Homo sapiens: one gene and its partners. The protein of the gene in region 3 purifies or fractionates together with the protein of the main gene of each other region. This does not show direct contact. Each region holds a gene or a part of one and is shown on either strand. Other genes may lie near its edges. The genes, in order: PALM2AKAP2, MPRIP and SYDE2.

What was found.
Region 1: the proteins of SYDE2 (region 3) and PALM2AKAP2 purify together in Homo sapiens (affinity purification with mass spectrometry; one large-scale study listed by BioGRID and IntAct). This does not show direct contact.
Region 2: the proteins of SYDE2 (region 3) and MPRIP purify together in Homo sapiens (affinity purification with mass spectrometry; one large-scale study listed by BioGRID and IntAct). This does not show direct contact.

The regions. Positions count from the first base shown.
Region 1 is NC_000009.12:110,168,173-110,170,739, forward strand, and holds part of PALM2AKAP2 (PALM2-AKAP2 protein isoform 3 (PALM2-AKAP2)), read left to right. Parts: intron 1-226; coding exon 227-325; 3' UTR 326-2,567. UniProt on the Homo sapiens protein: Binds to regulatory subunit (RII) of protein kinase A. May be involved in establishing polarity in signaling systems or in integrating PKA-RII isoforms with downstream effectors to capture, amplify and focus diffuse, trans-cellular signals carried by cAMP.
Region 2 is NC_000017.11:17,045,402-17,049,061, reverse strand, and holds part of MPRIP (myosin phosphatase Rho-interacting protein), read right to left. Parts: intron 1-3,660. UniProt on the Homo sapiens protein: Targets myosin phosphatase to the actin cytoskeleton. Required for the regulation of the actin cytoskeleton by RhoA and ROCK1.
Region 3 is NC_000001.11:85,190,864-85,194,523, forward strand, and holds part of SYDE2 (rho GTPase-activating protein SYDE2), read right to left. Parts: intron 1-3,660.

The DNA of each region.
Region 1 (2,567 bases), on a different chromosome or scaffold from region 3:
GTGAAAACTAGGGGTCAAGTAGCAGATGAATACTGGCTGTGAGATGAATGCATAACCAGAACCTCCCATTCCCCTTTTTCCAGCGTCTCTCCTATCTCCCAGCAGTGCTTTATCACTTTCTCCTCTCAAGTTGATAAAGAGAAAGGAAGAAAGAAACAGAGAAGTCGGTTTATGTTCATAATTAACATCCATGAACTCTGCATAATTTTTTCCCCTCTCTTTACAGGTCCTCGAGGCCACACGGGTTAATCGAAGAAAGAGCGCACTGGCTTTGCGCTGGGAAGCAGGGATCTATGCCAACCAGGAGGAAGAAGACAACGAATAAACTTCCTTCAACCCAGGAAGCGTCTTTGGTGCTTGGGAGACCAAGAAACCAAGAAATTAACAACTGAAAGCATTTTAATGGACTATTTATTAAAGTGCAAACAAACTCAGCAATCCTTATGTAGACCAGAAGCTGCAATATACAATGATGAAAATGAAACGAAAAGGAAGTCCCCCCATCAGACTCTGGACACCCAGGAATCAAAAGAGAAAGGACTTTTTTGGTGACTCAATCCCAGTGTCTGGTTTGGGGCCAATCTACAATGGATCCAAAAGGACAAAACATGTTACAAGCAAATCAACATAGTTGCTGCAGGCGGAACTGAGACCAGCCTCTCTGGGCGATGAAGGACAATGGTGGTAGGGCCACTTAGAGAGCAGTAGGGCCCAGGCTGGTGCAGCCTACATGGCACAGGATATTTCCCTGCACCAGTTTCCCACCTGTCACTTGCAGCATCAGAGGGTGTTGCATTAACTCCATTTTCTCCAGCAGCCATAAAATGAATGGCGTTTCTCTCCATATTTGCCCAGAAGAGGCAGTTATGATTCCACTTCTCCTACATTTAATTATTTTTAATTGAGAACAACTCATGATCACAATTCATAAAATCCATATTTTAAGACAATAGTTCTTCATGTCACAAACACAATCTATTCTACATGAGGAGGCTGAGAAAGGGGAAGAGAAAAACAAACCAAATGGATGATGTTAGCTTTAGGATCGTGTCTGCTTATAATATTCACTGATCTGCAGTTTATGAGAACACATTTTCACAGTTATGTTTCTTCATAGGAAAACTATATTTAGTGGGCAACAACTATTTTTATGATGGGATGGGGGAGTATATACACGTATAGAATCTGTACGCGTTGAACAACTTGGTTCAAGATGGTGGGGGCATTTTTAGAGCGGCAATAATTGAAAAAAAAGGCGAACTCTGCCTTGGAGAGGTAGATGATAAGAAATAAAAAGGTGTTTATAACTATTTTGTATTATAAAGTGGGCCTTAGAGATAGGAAGAAGAATGATGGATTCCTTTTGGATCAATCAGAAAGGAAACACGAAAGAAAAGTCAGGAAGGTAGAGAGAGAAAAAGGGAGGGAAGGAGAAAGAATGGGAATAAAATAAGGAGGTAAGAGATACTATTTTTGCTGAGCAACCAGTGTGTTTCAGGATGATACAAAGAAAAATATAGAATAGAAATAAGTGCAGGCTTGGAATCAGCTACAAATCCTAAAGATGGGGTGTGTGTGGATGTGTGTGTGTGTGTGTGTACACCATTGTGTGTTTGTAAAATGTGTATGTTCATGAGTAAGGGTGTGTGTGTGTGTGTATTAAAATTCCAGAGTGACCGTGGCACTTGGGTGTACAGGTAATTCCTCCAGAGCTGTTTGCTGGCTTCAGGAGTGGAGTGAGAATTTCTTTTTTATGAAAAGGGATATAAAGGCACCGAGCTGATGCAGTATTTGTAATATTAAGTTGACCTAACAAGGTATTTGCATGAGTCACAATTACAAAGTTTTGAGCGGTTTTGTAATTTGACATTTAGGAGAGTCTCCTATTTATTCTCATACTTTACATTCATGCTTAGTATACTATAGAGGATGCCAGCTTTAATCTTTCTGTCATTTAAAGCAATATGATAAGGGTATTCAATAATTGGGTGCCCTAAATTTCTGGATGAGAAAATTTTCAATTCTGGCCATGAGAAAGAAAAAAAAATAAACAGCCTTCTTTTTTTTTCCTTTGTTTTAAAACTGTGGTTTTTTAAAAAAGCAATAATTAACTCAGACCTCACTAAAAATCATTTTTGTTTTTATATTGTTATGTCATAAGCTCTATTATGTTATTCTAACAAGTAGCAATTTCACAAAATTTGTATGTAGATGTTAACGCACATTTCCTTTGCTTCTTTTATTAGACTAGTGTTGACTTTGGGGGGGGACATTTATTCACAAATGAGAAGTAGGCACAAAGTAAAAAATGGAACCATCTACTAACAAGGATCCTTTAAAACTGCCAAGGGAGCTCTAACTTGAAGCCACATCCTACAGATGGCAGCCCAAATAGCACATGGGCAATTGGCACCATCTTTATATGGTTGAGTCTCCTGAATATTTTGAATGAATTCTCAACAAAATGTGCTAGCCACTGGGGACGCAAAACAAGTAAGATCCCTGTTGCAAGAAATTCATTTTATAGTGAGGGAGGTTGGCATGGAGACTAAAATTCTCAGGAAAAT
Region 2 (3,660 bases), on a different chromosome or scaffold from region 3:
CGCAATGTTTTCTAGGTTCGTCCATGTTGTGGCATGTCTCAGTACTTCGCTCCTTCTTAGAACTGAATGATATTCCATGGTATGGATACACTATGATTTGCTTATCTACGCATTAGTGGATGGACACTTGGATTGTTGCTGCCGTTTGGCTATTGTGAGTAGTGCTGTTATGAACATTTGTATACAAGTATCTGTTTGAATACACCTGTCCTCAATTCTTCTTGGCATATACCTAGAAGTGGGAATGCTGGCTCACGTGGTAGGTTTTATGCTGAACTTTTTGAGAAACCCCCAAACTGTTTCCACAGCAGCTACACCATTTCATTCCCACCAGCAACGTGCAAGAGTTATAACTTCTTCACATCCTCGCCAACATGTTATATTCTTATTTTTTTAATTCTAGCCATCCTGACAGGTATGAAGTGATATCTCACTGTGGTTTCAATTTGGGTTTCGCTGATGACAACGCTGAGCATTTGTCATGGTGCTTGGCCGTCTGAAATGGGATTTTGTGTGTCTGAGATTTTTGACACGCTCCCTGCCAAGCAACACACCAACTCCTGTTACAGATCTTCTACAAGGGGGGGATGCGAAATCTCCCCGTTGTTTCTGAGATACACATTAAGTCAAATCAGGAAGTCCTATGCCTTAGAACTTCTACGAATGTCTACAGGAACAAAGGGAAACCTGATGAAATGCTTCCCTGAGACCTCGTCCTGGCCCACACCCTCTATGTCTGAAATTCCCACCTGAGGCCCCCGCAGCTTTGGAGCCTTGGCAGTGGGGTATGGGCACAGCAAGGGCAGAATCACACCAGGAAGACTAAGAACCCTGGGAGAGATCAAGACCGAGCTCATTTCCAGATGGGAAAACAGGCCTGAGCAATGAAAATGACCCAGCCAAGGTCCCACAAAAAAACAGGGCTAGACAAAGAAGTAGAAACAGGCTTGCAGGCTCCTTCCACAGAGGCAATGCCTGAAGTTACACAGTCAGCAGGAGAAAGAGACATCACCCCCAGATCAACACGCGGATGTAGAAGCTGAGCACCCTGGGTTCCAGACCTGCTTCTCCCACTAATGCCCACCCCTCTGATTCACCTCCCAGCCTCTGCACCTGCTCCCCTTTTGCCTGCCCACTACATGGGGGCTTCCTAGGCTGGTTCCTCTCCTTTCACTCTATGCAGCCTCCTGAGTGCTCACACTCACTCCCATGATTTCAGCAACCACCTCCACATCCAAGACTTAAGAATTCCAACCCAGCCTCCCTCTACGTCCATAAGGGTCAAACTTACCATATTATTTTTTACCCCTCCCCATCCCCCAAGTTTACTCCAAATCTGTTCTTCTCAATCTCTGTTAAAGGTACTTCTAACTACCCCAGGTTCCTCAACACCCACCTCTGATCAACCAACAACATCCTGTCCCTAGAGTCTGATTCCTTCCATCCTCACCAGCACTGATCTGGAGAGAATGCCTTGATTGTAATTTACCCAGTTTAATAGCCTCCAGTAGATCTTCTGCCTTTAACCAGAATTATTTTCCTAAAAAACAAGTCTGATAGATTAAAAAGCTAAGTATAAAAATAGCTATAAAAGAATATGAGAAATTATTTTACAAATCTTGGAAAGTAGGCCTTAAACATGACATTAAAACTACAAACTATTAAAAAAAAAGACCAACTGCATTTATATTATGAAAAAGAAAAATAACCACACAAAAAAGACAAGTGGCATTCTGGGAAAAAATACCTGCAATACGTGGCAAGCATCGGATTAATATCTAGTTCAGGGTCAGCAAACTATGGCTCACAGGCCACACATCATGCCAGCTGCCTGTTTTTGTAAATAAAGTTTTTTAAATTTATTATTATTATTACTTTTTTGAGAAGGAGTCTCACTTTGTTGCCCAGGCTGCAGTGCTGTGGCACGATCTTGGCTCAATGCAACCTCTGCCTCCTGGGTTCAAGCAATTCTCGTGCCTCAGCCTCCCAAGGAGTAGCTGGGATTACAGGCATGTGCCACCACACCCAGCTAGTTTTTGTATTTTTAGTAGAGACAGAGTTTCACCATGTTGGCCAGGCTGGTCTTGAACTCCTGACCTCAGATCATCCACCCACCTCAGCCTCCCTAAGTGCTGGGATTACAGGCATGAGCCACTGCGCCCTGCCGGTAAATAAAGTTTTACTGGAACACAGTAACTCATTCGAACTCATTCGTTAATGTGTTGTCTACGGCTGCCTTTGTGATGAGACGGCAAAGTCTGCACAGTTGTGACAGAGACCATATAGCCCACAGACACTAAATTATATTTACTATTTGGCCTTTTACCAAAAAAGTTTGCAGACCCCTGACCTAAAGCACTTATAGAAAGCTCCTACAAATCAACTGGGGGAAAAACTAACCTTACAGAAAAATGGGCAAGCAATACGAACAGGCAATCCACAAAAGAAACAAAAATACTCAGTAAATACTATAAAAAAGGCTCAACTTCATGAGTAATTAGGAAAATTATTAGAGAATTAAATCATTTGATAATATCCAGTCCTGGAAATGTTATCACACAGCCTTTTTTGGAAGGCAATTTCGTGGTATCTGAAAAAAAAAATTTATGCGCTTGATGTCAACCCAGCCATTCTATTTATAGGTATCTGCCCCCAGAGAAATACTTGCATTCATGCATGCACGCACACACACCCAGAAGTATTTATAAGACTCTTTGCCGAAACATTCACTGTATGTAACAGCAAAACCCATAAGCAACCTTGATGTCTATCAATAAGGAAACGGGTTAAATTATAGTACACTCCTAAAGGCCTAATATGCAAAATGGTTCTGGCATCTTTATATGCAACACCATGAAAAGAACGTAAAGATATGCTGATAAGCAGAAAACAAAAAATATGTCGCAGAGCAAATACATGCACACAGTTCAGGATAAAAAGGTTTAACTGTATATTTGAGCTGGGCACAGTGACTCACGCCTGTAATCCCGGCACTTTGGGAGGCCGAGGCAGGCGGATCACGAGGTCAGGAGATCAAGACCATCCTGGCTAACACAGTGAAACCTCGTCTCTACTAAAAATACAAAAAATTAGCCAGGCATGGTGGCGGGTGCCTGTAGTCCCAGCTACTCGGGAGGCTGAGGCAGAAGAATGGCATGAACCTGGGAGGCGTAGCTTGCAGTGAGCTCAGATCGCGCCACTGCACACCAGCCTGGGCAACAGAGCGAGACTCCGCCTCAAAAAAAAAAAAAAAACTGTATATTTGGGTCCGTATGTCGCTGAGAAATGCACAGGAAAACTGGAGGATAAATGACACTCTGTGAACAGGGGCCTGGAACAAGTAATAAAGGACGGTCACTTATCACTTATCCCAGATTACTCCAAATTTCCGTGAGGAGGAAAAGGCAAAGAACTCCACTGCTCCAAGCCAGCATTCTCAAGGCACCTCCTGCAACATAACTATCCCTGACATTATTGTCCTCATCATGTGCTCATGGTGTGGCCACTGTAGACCCTGAACAGGAGTAGGGGAACTAACATTGGCTTCAGAATCCTGGCTCCATCCCTGAACTGGGCAAGTCACTTCCCTTCTCTGGGTTTCAATCTTCTCACCGGTAAGAGGAAGTGGTTACATTAGCTGATCTCCAAGTCCCTTCCAGG
Region 3 (3,660 bases):
TCACATTCAGAGACTAAAATTGAACTAGAAAAAATTTGAATTTTACATATAAATATGATTTATATTATTTAGAAATCAAACTGCTAGTACAAGTGTCAAAGAATTCTAAGAAAAAGGATATACAAACTCTGAGCCTGCCTTTATAAAAACTATAGTGCTAACAAAGCCTTACCCTAAGCAAAACATACCTTATAAAAAGTTTATCTAGAATGCTTTATTCATAGTATACCTCTAATCAATATTTGAATAAGTTTCAATTCATTATTACAAGGACCAGAAGTCCTTAGAAATATAATATTCCTCCTACCCTTTTCACACAAAGATTAACTTTCAAACCTAACAAGAAACTATGCCTTACTAATATTAAAATGTCAACATAACATTGGCTTCCTATCCACATAACACAATGGCACCTTATGTAGGGTTTAAGTTCTAAATATCTAGGGCAGAACTAAAAACAAAAATCCCTTCAGAAGGCCCCAGATTAGAAGCAGGTATGCTGTCTCACAGTATGCACTACACAGCTATTATTTTTTTTGGCCAGGCACAAACTTAAGCAGCAGAGAAATAAGAATGAACAAAACAATCCCTTCCCTTAAGAAATTCATAGTCCAGGCCCTGCGCAGTGGCTAATGCCTGTAATCCCAGCACTTTGGGAGGCCGAGGCAGGAGGATCACGAGGTCAGGAGTTTGAGACCAGCCTGGCCAACATAGTGAAACCCCGTCTCTATTAAAAATACAAAAATTAGCCGGGCATGGTGGCACGTGCCTGCAGTCCCAGCTATTCAGGAGGCTGAGGCAGGTGAATAGCTTGAACCCAGGAGGTGGAGGTTGTGGTGAGCCGAGATCGTGCCACTGCACTCCAGCCTGGGTAACAGAGCGAGATTCCGTCTCAAAAAAAAAAAAAAAAAATTAATAGTCCAATGGGAGACCTCAAATGCTTAGATATATGCACATCTTAATATAAGTAAGACTCTACAAATGTATACATAACATTAATTTCATCTAAAGAGGAAAATATTTTGTGTTTCCAGAGTTGTAAAGCAGGCTTCAATGACAGTCCATAAGCTAAGTATATAACTATCATTATAATAAAAATTCACCGTACATAATTAAAACCACATTTTAAAAATCTAAGATCATCTCAGGTTTCTAAATTATGGAATTATATGGTCAACTCATCTTATTGGCACAGCAAGTAAAAAATAATGGTCTAAAAATAGAGTGATAAAACACACTAAGCCACAAGGAGCTTAAAACAACCAAAAAATCAGATTTATGCAGAATCAAGGTTTTCAGTAACCTCCCTTCTACTGAAAAGAAAATCCTTTAAAAAATCCAAATGTCCAGCCTGGGCAACATGGCAAGACCCTATCTCTACAAAAAATTTAAAAATTAGCCAGGTGTGGTGGCACACACCTGTCATCCTAGCTACTTTGTAGGCTAAGCTGGGAAGATTGCCTGAGCCCAGGAATGTGAGGCTGCAGTGAGCTATGATTGTGCCACTGCACTCTAGCCTGGGCAACAGAGTGAGACCCTGTCTCTTAAAAATAAATGAATAAATATATTTTTCCTTTTACAAAATCCTAAACATGTACCCAACCAAGCAGATTAATAATAAATAAATAAATAAACAAACCTTAAACACAAATTGCAAGTCACATTCAATTCCAGATGCAGGAATTAGACTAGAAATCAGAAGGCAAGGAAGCTCCCATGAATACCTACTATGCCAGGCATTTATTTACTCCACAAATGAGTGACTATTATGTGGCAGGCATGAGAGATAAAGAAGTAAGGAGGCCCCCAACCTCATTTAACCTCTAGAACAATCCTATGAAACAGGTATGATTACCATCATGAGCCTCAAAGAGTTTGAGAAATATGGTCAAGTCGCTAGCCCTAGGATTCAAATTTAAGCCTGTCTAACCTTAAAACCCATGCTCTACTCACCATGCTACCCACAAACCACACGATGCTACCCATACCATGCTACTCACAAACAGTACAGAAGTAGGCAACCCTTTCTGAACATGGGGATATTCATCCCAATTTATCTTATAAATTAAAGTGGCTGCTGGTAAGAACTAAGTGAAATAATGTTCAAAATACTTGAAAAACTATTAAGTTCTACTCAAAAACGCCAAGTAACTTGTTCAAGAGTACCTTGTTGGTAAATGGAAAAGGCAGCACTCAAACTTATTCTGACTCCAAAGTTTGTGGTGATATATCTAGGCTACTATAAGGGAAATTCAAAAGTCTTTCTCTGGTTCTATCTCCATTACACTTAAAATTAACAACTGAAAATTAAAACATACTCAGCAATCACTGGGGTTTCTGGGTTTTCAGTGATCACATGATTTTGCCAGGTGCACTGAAGTCTAAATCTATTTCACATTTAAGTTCAAATCCAGTATTACTTAACAGTATTTCAGACCTTCACAGGATATTATAGTTTGACCCAATTTAAATTTGAAGCAAACAGTATAAAATTACATTACTCATGATGGCTATGAGCCACATCTTATTTTATCTTTTTCTCAGACATCTCTTAGAAATTCCAAATTTTTATATAGCTAGACACATTCATTATTTTAAATCTTTTTGGAGTTTTCTGACATACACTATAAATGAGTCTTTGAACATGTTTCTACTACATTGCAAGGAACTACAGTGAGAAAAATAAAGCTACCAGTATCCCATATTTAAGCAAGTTGATACTTCCATTGATATAATCATTTAATGAAAGTATAATATTAAAAGGAATTTTTTTTTACTAGATAGGGTCTCACTCTTGTCACCCAGGCTGGAGCACAGTGGCACCATTATGGCTCACGGCAACCTCAACCTCCCAGGCGCAAGTGATCCTCCCGCCTCAGTCTCCCAAGAAGCTAGGACTACAGGCTTGCACCACCACACCTGGCTAATTTCTTTTTTTTCTTTTGGTAGAGACAGGGTCTCACTATGTTGCCTAGGCTGGTCTGGAACTCCCAGGCTTAAGTGATCTTCCTGTTTCCCCCTCCCAAAGTGCTGGAATTACGGTGTGAGCCACCATGTCTAGCCACTATTTTCAATGAAATTACAAACTACAAAAGCTTGAATCCATTCACTCTGATTGCTATTGCCGAATATTTTAAAATACATGATGCTGAACTTTAAACTTATAGATAAATGGCACATTATTATAATTTATATTGTGTATTATAAATATATAATATTACAAAGGCCAAATTTATTTATTAAACTGAATTAATCAACACATTATTCAAGATAATAAACTTGAGCAATTATTTATAATTAAAACATTTTTATCTCACTTAAATTAAATGGATCCACATGAATGTAAATTCATAGATATGGAAAGCTATTTGCAATCTGCCCTCCCATTTAATGCAACAATGTTTAACCATATTAGCATAAATTTAAGAGTTTTAGCTTCATATATATGAAATATGTTATTCATAAATTATAAATATTTTTGTAGAGAAAGGGTCTCATTGTTGCCTATATATTGCCTATAAATTATAAATTTTTTTGTAGAGACAGGGTCTCACTGTTGCCTATATATTAAATTATATATTATATATAAAAATACATACAATATATAATAAAATATATTTCATATATAATATAAAAATATGTTATATATACACACACACA